Homo sapiens: one gene and its partner. The protein of the gene in region 1 interacts with the protein of each later gene in a pairwise test. Each region holds a gene or a part of one and is shown on either strand. Other genes may lie near its edges.

What was found. The genes of interacting proteins can lie anywhere in the genome.
Region 2: the proteins of CADPS (region 1) and PRPF18 interact in a two-hybrid assay, tested with the Homo sapiens proteins (one large-scale study listed by BioGRID).

Annotation. Positions count from the first base shown.
Region 1 is NC_000003.12:62,487,417-62,490,916, reverse strand, and holds part of CADPS (calcium-dependent secretion activator 1), read left to right. Parts: intron 1-3,500.
Region 2 is NC_000010.11:13,603,836-13,607,566, reverse strand, and holds part of PRPF18 (pre-mRNA-splicing factor 18), read right to left. Parts: intron 1,937-3,731; coding exon 1,823-1,936; intron 1-1,822.

The sequences.
Region 1 (3,500 bases):
TTTGGAGCCACATAATCTCTGTCACAACTCAACTCTGTCATTGTAGCATGAAAGCAGTCATAGACAGTATGTAAATGAACGAGTGTAGCTGTGTTCCAATGAAACTTTGTTAACAAAACAGGTCCATAGTTTGCCATTGCCTGGTCTAGGCCTTTTAGATGCACCTTTTTAAAAAAAACCTTTATGGCCAAGTATGTTTAGGAAACAATACCTACCCCACTGACCTAGAATTTTGTGTAACTCTGTTTAACCCGGATTTTCCTAAATGTATTTGACAACCGTGTGCTTTTTTTAAAATGGGACATATACCCTGCAGGATAAATTATGGGAAATCTTGTGGGTTGCAAGTTTGTCAATTTCCACAAATGTTTGGCAAATTTTAGGTCTTATTTGAAAATGTTTGGCAGGCTTGGTGCCATCTCCATTCCCCAAATGGGAAGAGGGCTTGACTTGAGGCTCCAGAGGGTCAGTCTCAGACTCCCCTTTCTGAAAAAATAGAGACTCCTATATGGAGAGTTTGATGGTTATGGTTTGATGGTTTGAAAAGCTCCAGTAAAGCCTACTGCTGGATTTGCCTTGTTAGTTTCTTTCTTTCTTTCTTTCTTTCTTTTTTTAAGGAAATCATTTCGTTCATGCTAGTATTTTACATCTTTGGGATGCAGCAAACAGTATGGAGCAAAGTAGAGGGATGTTACAAGCACATTTTAGGAACTCCAGAACAAATATTCATGAGGCCTTTCCTCAGTTTGGAAGCCTTGACTTGCAGCCTATTTTTAAGCAGTTTTCTGAACTGAGACCCTCCTCTAATGTTATACTGTATAAGGCTCTCACTGATAAATTAATGCAAAATAGGCTTTTCTGCCCCCCTTCCACATCTGAGCCACAAGAGGAGTTTCCCTATTGCAGGGAGGTTAATAACCAGTAGCTCCTCCTTTGCAAATACCAAGAAATTTAAATTTTAGTTTGTTATTCTCCAGTTTATAACAGTCTCTTAATATGGCCCTACTGACTTTTCACTCATGAGGGTAGAACTGGATCCCTTGATGGTAAATTATTGAGAGCCTCTATTTTTTTTCAATGTTCAATACAATGAAGACAGTTGTGCTGGAGAATAGCTATTAAGAGGAAAAGGTTAAAATGAGTAATATTTACGTTTTAAAATAACAATGGTCTTGAAATAACATTTACTTACTTGCACTTAAATACGGAGACTACTACTACCAACACACATGGAAGAGAATAATTGGTATCCTTCACTATTCCTTGAAGAGCCCTAGATTTAGTGCCCATTTACTAGCCAGAAGTCAAGGGTTCAAACCTCTATGAACTTGTTTGCTCCCCTGCAAAACTGAAGTTTTAAAAATGTGCCTGTCCAGTGTCTGAGAATTGTCATGGAACTTCGTGATAATGTCACTAAGTCATTTTATAATCTGTTAAATTTCTTAAAAGTCAAACACGGCCGGGTGCGGCGGCTCACGCCAGTAATCCCAGCACTTTGGGAGGCCGAGGCGGGTGGATCACAAGGTCAGGGGATCGAGAACATCCTGGCTAACACGGTGAAACCCCGTCTCTACTAAAAATACAAAAAATTAGCTGGGCGTGGTGGTGGGCACCTGTAGTCCCAGCTACTCGGGAGGCTGAGGCAGGAGAATGGTGTGAACCCAGGAGGTGGAGCTTGCAGTGAGCCGAGATCGCTCCACTGCACTCCAGCCTGGGTGACAGACCGAGATGCCGTCTCAAAAAAAAAAATAATAAAAGTTTAACACATGACTGCTACTTCTTTGGGGGCATTAAATATTCTTAATACCATCAGAAATAAAGATAGACTCAAAAATCATCTTCATACCTGGAAATCTTAGTCTAGGGATGTTTTCTTGGGAATATTTTTACCAATTAAAAAAAAATTTGAACTCTTGCATGGGCAATTTAAAGGTCTGCAAATTGTGAATAAAGGAATAATAGTTGCGAATAATAACCTGAGAATTATGCAGATACGTGTGTGTTTTTTAGTAGCTTTTTGCTATCTAAAATTATGCTGTTAGTGAATATGATTGTGGTTTGTTCAATTCATACTAAATAGTATATGCCTTTCAGAGTCTGTGGAGATCTTTAAAAGTGCCAACTAAGGGCTGGGTGTGGTTGTTCACACTTGTAATCCCAACACTTTGGGGGGCCAAGGCGAGAGGATCACCTGAGGCCAGGAGTTCAAGACCAGTCTGGGCAACATAACCAGACTCCATCTCTACAAAATAAAAAAAGTAGCCAGGCATGGTGGCACAGCATGTAGTCCAAACTACTCAGGAGGCTGAGGTGGGAGGATTGCTTGAGCCCAGGAGTTCAAGGTTACAGTGAGCCATGATCCTGCCACTGTACTCCAGCCTGGGGTGACAGAGTGAGTCCCTATTAAAAAATAATAATAATAAATAAATAAATAAATAAATAAATAATAAAAACAGTGCTAACTAAAATACAAGCTACCACACACACTGTATCAGCCGATTTTTAAACAGAGTGTGGATGCCACGGGGCAGCTTTGCAGAATGGAATAAAATGGAGTGTAAAAAAGAGCTTGGAGACATGTTATGTGCTAAGAGGAGTGACTCTCTCCATGTTTCCTACAACGTGAATAGAAATAAAGTGTGAACTTCCATCTGACTACTTATTGGTGGGTTGATGAAGAAGCAGATTCATTTCTCTTCTTAGATTTTTTTTCCAAGTGAAGAATGATCTTTTTGGCATACTTCTCATCAAGCTCACCCCAAAACAAGAAACTAACTTAGGTAAATAGATTTAGTTTGCTCAGTCTTTTCCATTTTTGCCACAGAATCTTCCAATACATACATACACACACACAGCCTTTCTTTCAAACAATTGTTATCCTCAAGTAGTTCTGTTCTTCTTCTTTTCAAAATTTATAAGCACCTCGTTATAAGTAAAATGAGAAATGCATTGTAATGAAATGCAATGTAATGTTCAAAATAATTAGCATGCAAAATGCTGAAGAAAAATAGCAATCTGACAAGAAAATGCTACCAATGTATTGAGTTTGCTAAAAAGAGAATGAAAAATATCCTTTATTCTTCAGATTTTCTTATTTCAAAATATGGCCCTGTAAAAGAAAATAGATATCATCATTTAGGCTTGATACAATTAAGGTTATTTAAGATGAACAACAAAAACAACAACAACAAAAATAATTGAAGTTATTTGACGGAAAGGGTAAAATGGCTGAGTCCTATGGCAGCCTTTCCCTAGAAAGACAGTCTTCCATCTCTTCGAAAAGAGAAAAGGGAAGCTACATCTCTGTTTCCGTTAAGCCAGACACAGTCATGGTTAGAATCTCTATGAATTGGTGGACAATGTCATCTCTTTGCTTCTAACCATAGCTAAAGATAGTCAGCTTCTCAAAGACAGTCCCAAGTTGTCAATAAAATCTGGAGCCCATGGCCCTCTCATGGGTTTCCATCAGGACATGTAGTAGGGTCACCACTCACAGTTGG
Region 2 (3,731 bases), on another chromosome or scaffold:
GGTGGCACACACCTGTGGTCTCAGCTACTTGGAAGGCTGAGGTGGGAGATCGCTTAAGCCCAGGAGCTAGAGGTTGCAGTTAGCCATGATCATGCTGAACTCCAGCCTGGGTGAGAGTGAGACCCTGTCTCAAAAAGCGTGTGTGTACACACACACAAACTTCTGTTCAGCAAAAGATTCAATTAAGAGAACAGGTAAGCCCTAAACTACAAGAAAATAGTCACAAAAAATATTCGTATATCTGACAAAGAACTTCTATCCAGAATATACAAAGAATTCCTATAATCCATTTACAAAAAGACAAGTTTATTTTTAAAATGAACAAAAAGCGCCTGTAATCCCAGCTACTTGAGAGGCTGAGGTGGGAGGACTGCTTAAGCCCAGGAGGTTGCAGCTGCCATGAGCCATGATTATGCCACCGCATTCCAGCGTAGGTGACGGAGTGAGACTCTGTGTCAAAAAAATAAATAAATAAGGAAAGAAAGACTTTAACAGACACTACACAAATGAACACAACTTTATGAAAAGATGCTCCTCATCTTTAGTCATCAGGTAATGTGATTAAAGCCGCAAAGAGCTACTACCAGACACAAAAGAGAATGGTTAAAATTAAAAAGACTAACAATACCACATGCTGGGGTTTGGAAATGACTGGCATTTCTTATGAAGTTAAGCATACATCTACTCTTATTATCCAGCAATTCTACTTCTAGGTATCTCCCCAAGAGACCTATTTATTTACCCAAGAAAAATAACATAGTTCCAAAAAAAGATCTGCATAAGAATGGTCATAGCAGTTTTATCCCTGTTTTTTTTTTTTTTTTTTTTTTTTTGAGAAGGAGTCTCACTCTGTCGCCAGGCTGGAGTGCAGTGGCACAATCTCAGCTCACTGCAACCTCCACCTCCCGGATTCAAGTGATTCTCTTGCCTCAGCCTCCCAAGTAGCTGGGAATACAGGCACACGCCACTACGCCCAGCTAATTTTTGTATTTTTAGTAGAGACGGGGTTTCACCATGTTGGCCAGGATGGTCTCGATCTCTTCACCTTGTGATCCACCTGCCTCAGCCTCCCAAAGTGCTGGGATTACAGGCTTGTGCCACCACGCCCAGCCAGCAGTTTTATTCCTAATAGCCCAAAGCTGGAAACAAATTTTGATATATTCATACAACTGAGTATCACTGGAAAATGAAAAGGAAACCAGTGGTATCTGCAATAACATGGATGAACCTAAAAACTGATATGCTGAGCGAAAGAAGCCAGACACACAATCTATGAGTCCATCTGTATGAAATACAAGAACAAGCAAAATTAATCCATGATGACAAAATTCAAATGGTGGCTGCCCAGGAAGGGATGAGGAGAAATATGAGGATAGGCTGAGAAGGGGTACTGGGGAAATTTCCTTTTTCTCTTTTTTTTCAACTTTTAAGTTCAGGGATACAGCTGCAGGATGACAGGTTTGTTACATAGGGAAACGTGTGTCGTGGTGGTTTACTTCACAGATCATCCCATCACCCAGCTATTGAGCCCAGCATCCATTCGCTATTCTTCCTGATGCTCTCAGGGAAATTTCTTTGGTGACGAAAATGTTCTATTTCTTTATAAGGGCAATGGTTATATGCTTGTATGTATTTGTCAAAATGCATTAAATGTTATACTTAAGATATGAGCTTTTCAAAAAATTAATGAAAACTTCCATTCAGCAGCAATAATCTGCTCACTTTACTTTTCCATTGTTGCCTACAATAATGCAATTAGTCAAACTCTATTCTAGTGAATGCAGTACAGTGGTATTTTTCTAGCTTTGTTCTGTCCTCTTACCTTGTTAACTTCTGGTGTGAGGATCTCTATTTTCCTTAAACGTTGAAAAGCATCATAATCAGTCTCTCCAAATAGTCTGATTGGTTCTCCTCTTTCTCTCAATCTTCTGATGACCTACAAAGTGAAACAGATACCCAGTAAATTTTTTTTTTTTTTTTTTTTTTTGAGACAGTCTCACTCTGTTGCCCAGGCTGGAGTGCAGTGGTGCGATCTCGGCTCACTGCAAGCTCCGCCTCCCAGGTTCAAGCGATTCTCCTGCCTCAGCCTCCCGAGTAGCTGGGACTACAGGCGCCCGCCACCACACCCAGCTAACTTTTGTATTTTTAGTAGAGATGGGGTTTCACCATGTTGGCCAGGATGGTCTCAGTCTCCTGCCCTTGTGATCCGCCTGCCTCGGGCTCCCAAAGTGCTGGGATTACAGGCGTGAGCTAATGTGCCCAGCTATTAAACTTTTGAGAGAGGAAAAAACTAAACATCTCAAAAACAATTTGTATATTGTACCTTAAAAGCCAAGCCTGGGTTTAATAAAAGCTAATTATCCAAATACATGCCTCTGTGTAAAGTATAAAATCCTTCAAATATTTTAGATCATTTCAATTAAGCTAAACAAAGATGTTTCCAAATCAAAGAGAAAATCAAGTACTTTAAAAATCTATTTTGACTCAAAAGTCACTGTTATTAATTTTATCACTGAACAGCTCCTAGAAAGTGGTCTGACCTATGACTCTACAATTCAAGTCTAAAGAAAGACCCTAATATAAACCACCTCTTTTACTGTGAGATTTTTAAAAAATTCTTTTTTGTAAGAAAAGGGGCATGTCTGTGGCCCTCATTTTACATAATTATAACTGTTCTTAGTCTTCTTTTAAAAACAATGGAAAGACAATAGTAATCCCTTATGTCAGCATATTTTTGGTGATCAAACACTTGTTTTGAAATGTAGATGAAAAAAGTAATCTGTTTATTCTTTTAATTTTCCATAAACAGATATACTGTGTTACCATCACACCTTAAGTAACCATAAAGTTTAGGTCGTTTAGCTCACTGCTTCGATAGGACCAATCTGTGTGGCAGGACACACAGGAAAAACACTAAGATGGGAGGGAATGACAGCATTTATAGAGAGAAGGAAAATCAAATCTGAAGCCAGCTGATAATTACCATAATGGACAGTCTGCATTGTAATACCACCATGAAACCAAAAACTTCTCCCTCAGAAAACAGGGAGTTATAATCTGCATATGCAGAGCTTTTAAGATGCTGAAAATCTATTTCCAAACTTGGGTGATGGTTACATGAATATTTATTTTATAATTATTCATATATGTGTAACAAACATATATTGCCCTAACATGGTTCATACACTTTATATACATGCTATGTATGTCATTTTAAAAAGGAAGAAAGAAACAGAAAACGTAATAAATACTAGTCCAAATTTTTTAAATAAAGCAATAATGAGAAACACCAAGAGCTTTACCTGGGAGCATAAATAGCATCACACCTAAAATCCATTGAGAGGGCTCCCAGTGGATTAACAGAAGTTTGAGATTAAAACAGAAATTTAAGAGGTCATCTAGTGCTATCTCCAATCAATGCAGAAATGACCTCACAAACACCCTTGTCAGATCCCTGGCTGACAAATGGCAGGAATCACATTTCTTCGTGAAACATCCCATCCCATTGTTTAGACAGAGATGTTTTGCTTCTCAAAACTGAAATCTACTTCCCCCAAACTTCTACCCATTTATCCCAGTTCCACTTTATGAAACTACAGAGAATATTCTGATTTTCCAAAATCAGAGCTACTTTCATTGGATTTTTAAAGATATCTCTAGTAATTCTTCTCTCCAGCCTCACTATTCTAAATTCCTTCACCTCATCTTCATATGATGGTTTCTAGAGTCAG